2 linked regions of the Homo sapiens genome follow. The protein of the gene in region 2 purifies or fractionates together with the protein of the main gene of each other region. This does not show direct contact. Each region holds a gene or a part of one and is shown on either strand. Other genes may lie near its edges.

Region 1 (3,500 bases), on a different chromosome or scaffold from region 2:
ACTAATAAAACTGTAACAATGTGGGCTGGGCACGGTGGCTTATGCCTGTAATCCCAGCACTTTGGCAGGCCAAGGCAGTGGGTCACCTGAGGTCAGGAGTTTGAGACCAGCCTGGCCAACATGGTGAAACCCCGTCTCTACTAAAAATACAAAAAGGTTAGCTGGGTGTGGTGGTGCACACTGGTAGTCCCAGCTGCTTGGGAGGCTGAGGCAGGAGAACTGCTTGAACCCAGGAGGTGGAAGTTGCAGTGAGTTGAGATCATGCCATTGCACCGCAGCCTGGGCAAAAGAAGGAGACTCTGCCTCAAAAAAAAAAAAAAAAAAAAAAAGCTATAGAAATACGAACAACATGTTGAGGGAGGGGGGTTGATGATACAGTTTTATGTCTTTATTGAACTGATGTGCTTTGTTTGACTATTTTGATTTTCTGAGACAGGGTCTTGCTCTGTCACCTATGCTGGAGTGCAGTGCTGCAATCACAGCTCACTACAGCTTCTAACTCCTGGGCTCAAGTCATCATCCCAGCTCAGACTCTCGAGTAACTAGGACTATAGGTATGTGCCACCATCCCTGGCTTTTACTTGACTTTTGATTATAGATGATCTGTGTCTACTATGGAAACCTTTAAGGTCTTGAACCTTTTACAACTGCTGGATATCTGCTGTCTTATTTACTCATAGGTCCTGACATAGCACATCATTAAAAAACAAATTATTCCTTAACTAAAAGAAAAAAGACTCACTCTAAGTGACTTTTGACTTAAGCTATTTTAACAAGTAATAGATTTTATTTTAAAATTTTTTTAGAATCAGTTACTGATGCCTAATACAACTGAATATTTACCTCTGCTTCATTTTTTATCGTATTTACTTGGTTGATAAGTTTACAGTAGGCCTGGAACAGAAGCAGCAATTGAAAATGCAATTTGTATAATCTTCGGCAGAGCTCCAATTCCTAGAAATAAATAACATTACATTAAATTTAGGTGTTATTTTCTAGACAGCATATTTCCAATGGAAATTTATAGTTAAAATTGTCTTGTCGTTTATTTTTCTGCAGTAAGGAAGTTAATATGGTATGAAGCTGATGAAAGGCACGTGAAATATGCTTTAAAGACTAAGATTAAAATAAAAACAAATATCACTGCTGGTTACATAATTCAGTTTTAATGTTAAGCACATTTTCACATTCTACAAATAGACTGTTTCAGCAGGCAATTAATAGGATACTTTAAAAAGGATTCATTAGAATTTAAAACTTTAAATTCATAATTAAAATAATCTACAAATGCAAAGACTTTTGCCCTCATTGAGATGTAGATCTCACTGCATTTATCAACAAATGCTTGATAAAGCAAAGTGAAACCGGATAACCTCTTACCTAAAAAGTAAGAAAAGCTGTCTTTTAAAGTGAGGTCATTTTTCTAAAGAAAACCACTTGGTAATCTCATTGAAATGAAACTATGAAATTAACAACGTGGGCCGAGCACGGTGGCTCACACCTGTAATCCTAGCACTTTGGGAGGCCGAGGTGGGCAGATCACTTGAGCTCAGGAGTTTGAAACCAGCCTGGCCAATGTGGTGAAACCCCGTCTCTACTAAAAATACAAAAAATAATTAGCTGGGCATGGTGGTGGGTGTATGTAATCCCAGCTACTGGGGAAGCTGAGGCAGGAGAATCGCTTGAACCTGGGAGGCAGAGGTTGCAGTGAGCCGAGATCATGCCACTGCCCTCCAAGCCTGGGCAACAGAGCAAGACTCCATCTCAAAAAAAAAAAAAAAAGTTGTGCACTTTGATTTTTTAAATTAAGAAATTTAAGAGGAGATATGTTTAAGAAAAAGGTGACTGCTAATTTTATGTATTTTAACATCTCACTATTTTAAAAGAACCAACATTTCATGGATTAGGGCTTTGCAAAACTGAAGCACATACTACTTGTAAAGTAGTCCACGAGAAAACATTGCTGGGTCACAAATGGACAAATGGCAGATGAAAACCAGTTTGTCTGGCAAGGGTGAGTAGTCTATAAATCAAGACAGGTCACTTACTGCTAGTATTTCCATTTGCTAAGCAAGAAGGTGATCAGGTCACAAAAAATACAAAGGAAGAAAAAGACCAAGAATTAGTGTAAGAAATCATTTTAACTAGGGTCACAGATGTTCCAGGTAAACTGAAGAACATATATTTATACCCCAAAGAAAATTATACAAAGTTATTTCCAGAATAAAACTTTTTAGACATTTACTGCAACGATTCAGGGTGTTTTTAAACACTTTGCCAAATAATAAATTACATTTAGGCTATGACTTATTTCTGTGTAAAAGCTACAATGAATAAAACTGAACTATTGTGATCTTGGTAAATCTGGCTATCCAGGTTTAAAAAAAAAAAAACCAAAACCCAACTGTAATAAAACTTCCATTTGTAAACTGGAAAACTTATGATTAGAAAATAAGAAACAAATTAATTACTGTTACTTCTCAGAAAAGAATTGGCTTATAATCGTACATAATAAATACTTATCCATCACCATCAAAAGATTATCTCTAGGGTGGCTCATTCCAGGCTTCCTATCCTTTACTGTCTAATTAGGTCCTACTTTGCCATAACTGGTGCTGAGCCACAGGGTGGAATATCAAAAGCAGATGCATGTTCTAAATTGCATTCCAAATATACTTCAGTAAGTTTCAGAAACTTAACCCGACTAGGTTTGAATCAACATAATGTATGTAAAACACAGAGTAAAAATTTATGAACCATCTTAAAAACTATATGAAAACATGTACAGCAACTTGGATCTGGTCTCTTACGAGGAGAATGACTTCTAACTAAAACAACAATTGTTACACCGTAAATGTATCTTCTAAAAGTCATTCTTAAGCCTGCTTTTCTAAATAGTTTCCTGTGAAGGACTGTTTTTCATAAAGTTTATTCCTATCAATTTAGAAGGGATTTGCTAAATAAGCAAAGGTGAACTTTAGCTCCATGCTGCTTACCATAAATTATGTGGATGCTCATCCAATAAACATCAGTTGAGCACAATCCAAGGTCAAGCATATTCCATATCTAAATTTCTGAGGGTTTAGTTCATACAGTTTATTTCATATGGAAATTAACAATTTGAATTTTAAATACCTTTCCTCACTTCTATTAGCACAAATAAAGTAGAACTGATTCTACAAGCATATATGTATAGCCTCTACTTTGGGATGTAATGGAACATAAACTGCTGATAAAGTTTATGATCGTAGGAAATAACACAAATGTAATGAATTTTACAGCTCTGAATTACCAGCAATTACTCTAAATATGCTAAAACAGTGCAGTTTTTGTGGATGAGTGTGTGTGTGTGTATATATATGCACATTTTAAAGTATATTAAAATTTGCACATTCTTTTATTCATCTAACAAATATTTGACTGCTTATTATGCAAAAGACAAGACTGGTACACAAGGACAGATCAAATTGCATAAAAAGCGTCTTCCACCCTCAAAACAG
Region 2 (3,500 bases):
TACCATATTTACTGAATTTACATTTCTACATAGACTTAACATTTTATGAGAACGTTAATCAGAAAACAATACATATGAAGGGTTTAAATATAATTAGTATAAATTGTGATATTGCAATGGCTGTATTCTGTTTTAGATACTAAACATCTTCTAGAAGGGTAATTTAATATATATAAACATGTTAAGTTTTTCACCTACCTTTCTGTTTTGAATTCTTGAACTGGATACCTGGCTTTGTTTTTCACATTGTTGCTGTATCTGAGGTGATGTTTAGCCTTCTAAGTTGAGTATCATAACCATCAATCTTTGGTTGTTCTAATTTACCAAGTAAACTATGTTCACTTCCTAATTCAATTTAATGAATACCTAGATTATGTTTTCCATGCATTTCTGGCCATTTGTTTATGTAATAAATCTGTTATATCAGAGTACCACTTTGGTTAATATCTGATATACAAAGGTCTGGAAACTGAAAGAAGGTCAACTGGTCCATCCCTATCTCTCCAGGTGAACCTTTATCTAAAAGGTACCTTAAATACAAATGCTGAATCCAATATTCACTATTTCTGTGAAAGAAAATGGATGCTATTTTGGTTGTCTTATAATTTTACAGTTCTTCGATTTAATTTTCTTGAAGGCAATGTGATATAGTGGAAAAGCTCTAAAGTAAGATTTAAGAGACTGGGCTGTCATGCTGGACTCTGCATATTATTTTCTCTTTCTGAACGGCAATTTTCAGTGTGTAAAGTAGGGGTAATAATAGCTACCTAACTTTTGTCAAAGTGTTTTGGAGCTCAAATTGCATAATAAATAGATAAGTACTATGAATGATAAAGATCTCAGACAGTGTAAGATAGAATTATCATAAGTATGGTGTTTATTTTTCTTAGCTAGATTATATAGTTGGTGGGAGTGATTTGGTTTATTTGTTTAAATTTGGTAAGGAAATTGGGATTTCACATTTTAGGTTGGAGCTATTGTTGAAACAAGGACATCTGATGGATCTTTTCAGGAAGCTATTATCAGCAAGTTGACAGATGCTAGTTGGTATACCGTGGGTAAGTAATTAAGTAATTTAACACAGATTTGATTTGGAGGTTGCATGTATCTGTGTTTTGTGGATACACTGAATCATTGTGTTGGTGGAGAAATATATATTATTTCCTGTCAGTTTACTGGATATAGCTGACTAAAATTCTAAGAATGCCCTGTAGGTAACAAAAATAATTATCTCTTACAGTAAGTTGGCCACTTTTGTCTATTTCATCCAAAAATGTACTTCTATTTTAGGTTACTTTGATGTTTCTTTTCAAGAAAGTTAGATCACATGATTGTGATCACTTTTTCTATAATTACAATTAAAATTGCATAGTTGCGATCGTTACTGTATTGCTACATATTTTATACAAGGGTAATGTAGATGTTGCCAGACAATTTACAGATTTAAAAAATCCTGACCATGGTAGATTCAAGAATAGGTGATTGTTAACTTAGTTTTTGATTTTTGATACAGTGTGGGTGCTCATATTAACAGCTTTCAAGGTCGGGCATGTTGGCTCATGCCTGTAATCCTAGCATTTTGGAAAGCTGAGGCGGGTGGATCACTTGAGGTCAGAAGTTCGAGACCAGCCTGGCCAACATGGTGAAACCCCGTCTCTACTGAAAATACACAAATTAGCCTGGTATTAGTGGTGCATGCCTGTAATCCCAGCTACTCTGGAGGCTGAGGCAGGAGAATCGCTTGAACCTGGGAGGCGGAGGTTGCAATGAGCCCAGATCATGCCACTGCACTCCAGCCTGGGCGACAGAGTGAGATTTGGTCTCAAAAAGAAAACAGCTTTTAAGAAAAATATAGATGCTCCTAATATGAATGCATGAATGCATTCTTAACATTCCATGCATAAGCTTATACTGGCTTTAGATAACTTTATTGTATTAATAGTGAGAAGCAACAAGTGTCATAATACTTGTAAGTTAAAACCTTAAAGTAGTACTTAAATAGTTGCTGTCATTATGTTGATGAGAATAGCATTAAGTAACATTTCCAAATCTCCTCTCAGTACTTTCAAACTGCACAATCCTGTGGATAACATCCAATCTATAGCATTGTTGGTTTTTATACTTATTTCTTGGTTTAAGTGGTATAATTATTTTGTGGTTTTCTTGTAGAAATAAAAGAATGACCATTTAGGTTTACTTTTAGTTTACTTGATTTGTTGCTTTGGGTAAAAATCATTCACATCCAGTTGATGCTCAGTGTTGTGAAGAACTATGCTTTGGTTAAAAATTTCTCTGTCTTACCCTGTACCTTCTATTAGTAGTACCAATTTGCTGTGTGTAAGTACTTTTTTCAAACCTCTTTGATGCTTCTTGGACTTACTAGAATTTAGTGTTGGTTCACAGTGGTGCTATTATTCTGAACTACATATTTTTAGGAAGCTTAGTTGTGGCTACTGATAGTTGTTAAATTTTAAAAACTAAGTGGCCAGATGCAGTGGCTCTAACCTGTAATCCCAGCACTTTAGGGGGGCGAGGTGGGCGGATCACCTGAGGTCAAGAGTTCAAGACCAGCCTGGCCAACATGGCGAAACCTTGTCTCTACTAAAAATACAAAAATTAGCTGGGTGTGGTGGTGGGCGTCTGTAATCCCAGCTACTCAGTAGGCTGAGGCAGGAGAATCGCTTGAATCTGGGAGGCGGAGGTTGCAGTAAGCCTAGATTGTGCCATTGCACTCCAGCCTGGGCAACAAGAGCAAAACTGCGTCTCAAAACAAATAAAAACTAAGCTTAATGTTAACTCTTAGAGATTAAGTAAATACATCTTTGCTTTATCAAACTAAGACCTGATAAAAATTACAGGTGTGTGTAGAATCACCGGAAAATATATGATGCATATTCAGATATTTATATTGCACCTTATATTTTAACTCACTATAAAGGTTGTACTCACTTTGAAGCTTTACTGATAAAATGCGCATGCTCTATAGAAGGATTACTTTTCAGGTTTTCTCATTTTGGGTTTCTTTATCCCAGAGTAGTTATTCAATTATGAATAGCAACCTTTGTCCTCTACATGAGTAGCGTTTTAGTGTTTCTAAAAACTAGTCACTGCTAAGCATTCTCTATGGTGATTTTCTGTGTTGGATAATTACAGAAGAAATTGTATAATTCTTGTTCTCAAAGAGCTTTAGAATCTTAATTGCATATAATTGAGGTATCAAGCATTAGTGGACATAAGAATCACTTGGTGCTTGCTTAGAAAAATGAGGATTTGAGGACCCCAAGCCTCTCCAATTAGTAGGCCTGGGGATGGCAGTACAAGAATGTTTTAATAAGCATGTCAGTGATTCTGATGCAGGTAGTTCACACTTATAAAAACAGGGAAAAACAGATTTATTTGGGAGAAAAATTCAAAATATTAAAGATTTTTGCACTTACGTGCATGAAGGAAATTCATAAAAAGATTTTGAAAGGCACTGTTCCATTCAGAAAACTCAAGAT

What was found. Proteins that work in one complex are often made in the same cells at the same time.
Region 1: the proteins of ARID4A (region 2) and FRYL purify together in Homo sapiens (affinity purification with mass spectrometry; one large-scale study listed by BioGRID and IntAct). This does not show direct contact.

What each region holds. Positions count from the first base shown.
Region 1 is NC_000004.12:48,500,780-48,504,279, forward strand, and holds part of FRYL (protein furry homolog-like), read right to left. Parts: intron 2,067-3,500; coding exon 2,049-2,066; intron 955-2,048; coding exon 844-954; intron 1-843. UniProt on the Homo sapiens protein: Plays a key role in maintaining the integrity of polarized cell extensions during morphogenesis, regulates the actin cytoskeleton and plays a key role in patterning sensory neuron dendritic fields by promoting avoidance between homologous dendrites as well as by limiting dendritic branching.
Region 2 is NC_000014.9:58,305,055-58,308,554, forward strand, and holds part of ARID4A (AT-rich interactive domain-containing protein 4A), read left to right. Parts: intron 1-967; coding exon 968-1,058; intron 1,059-3,500.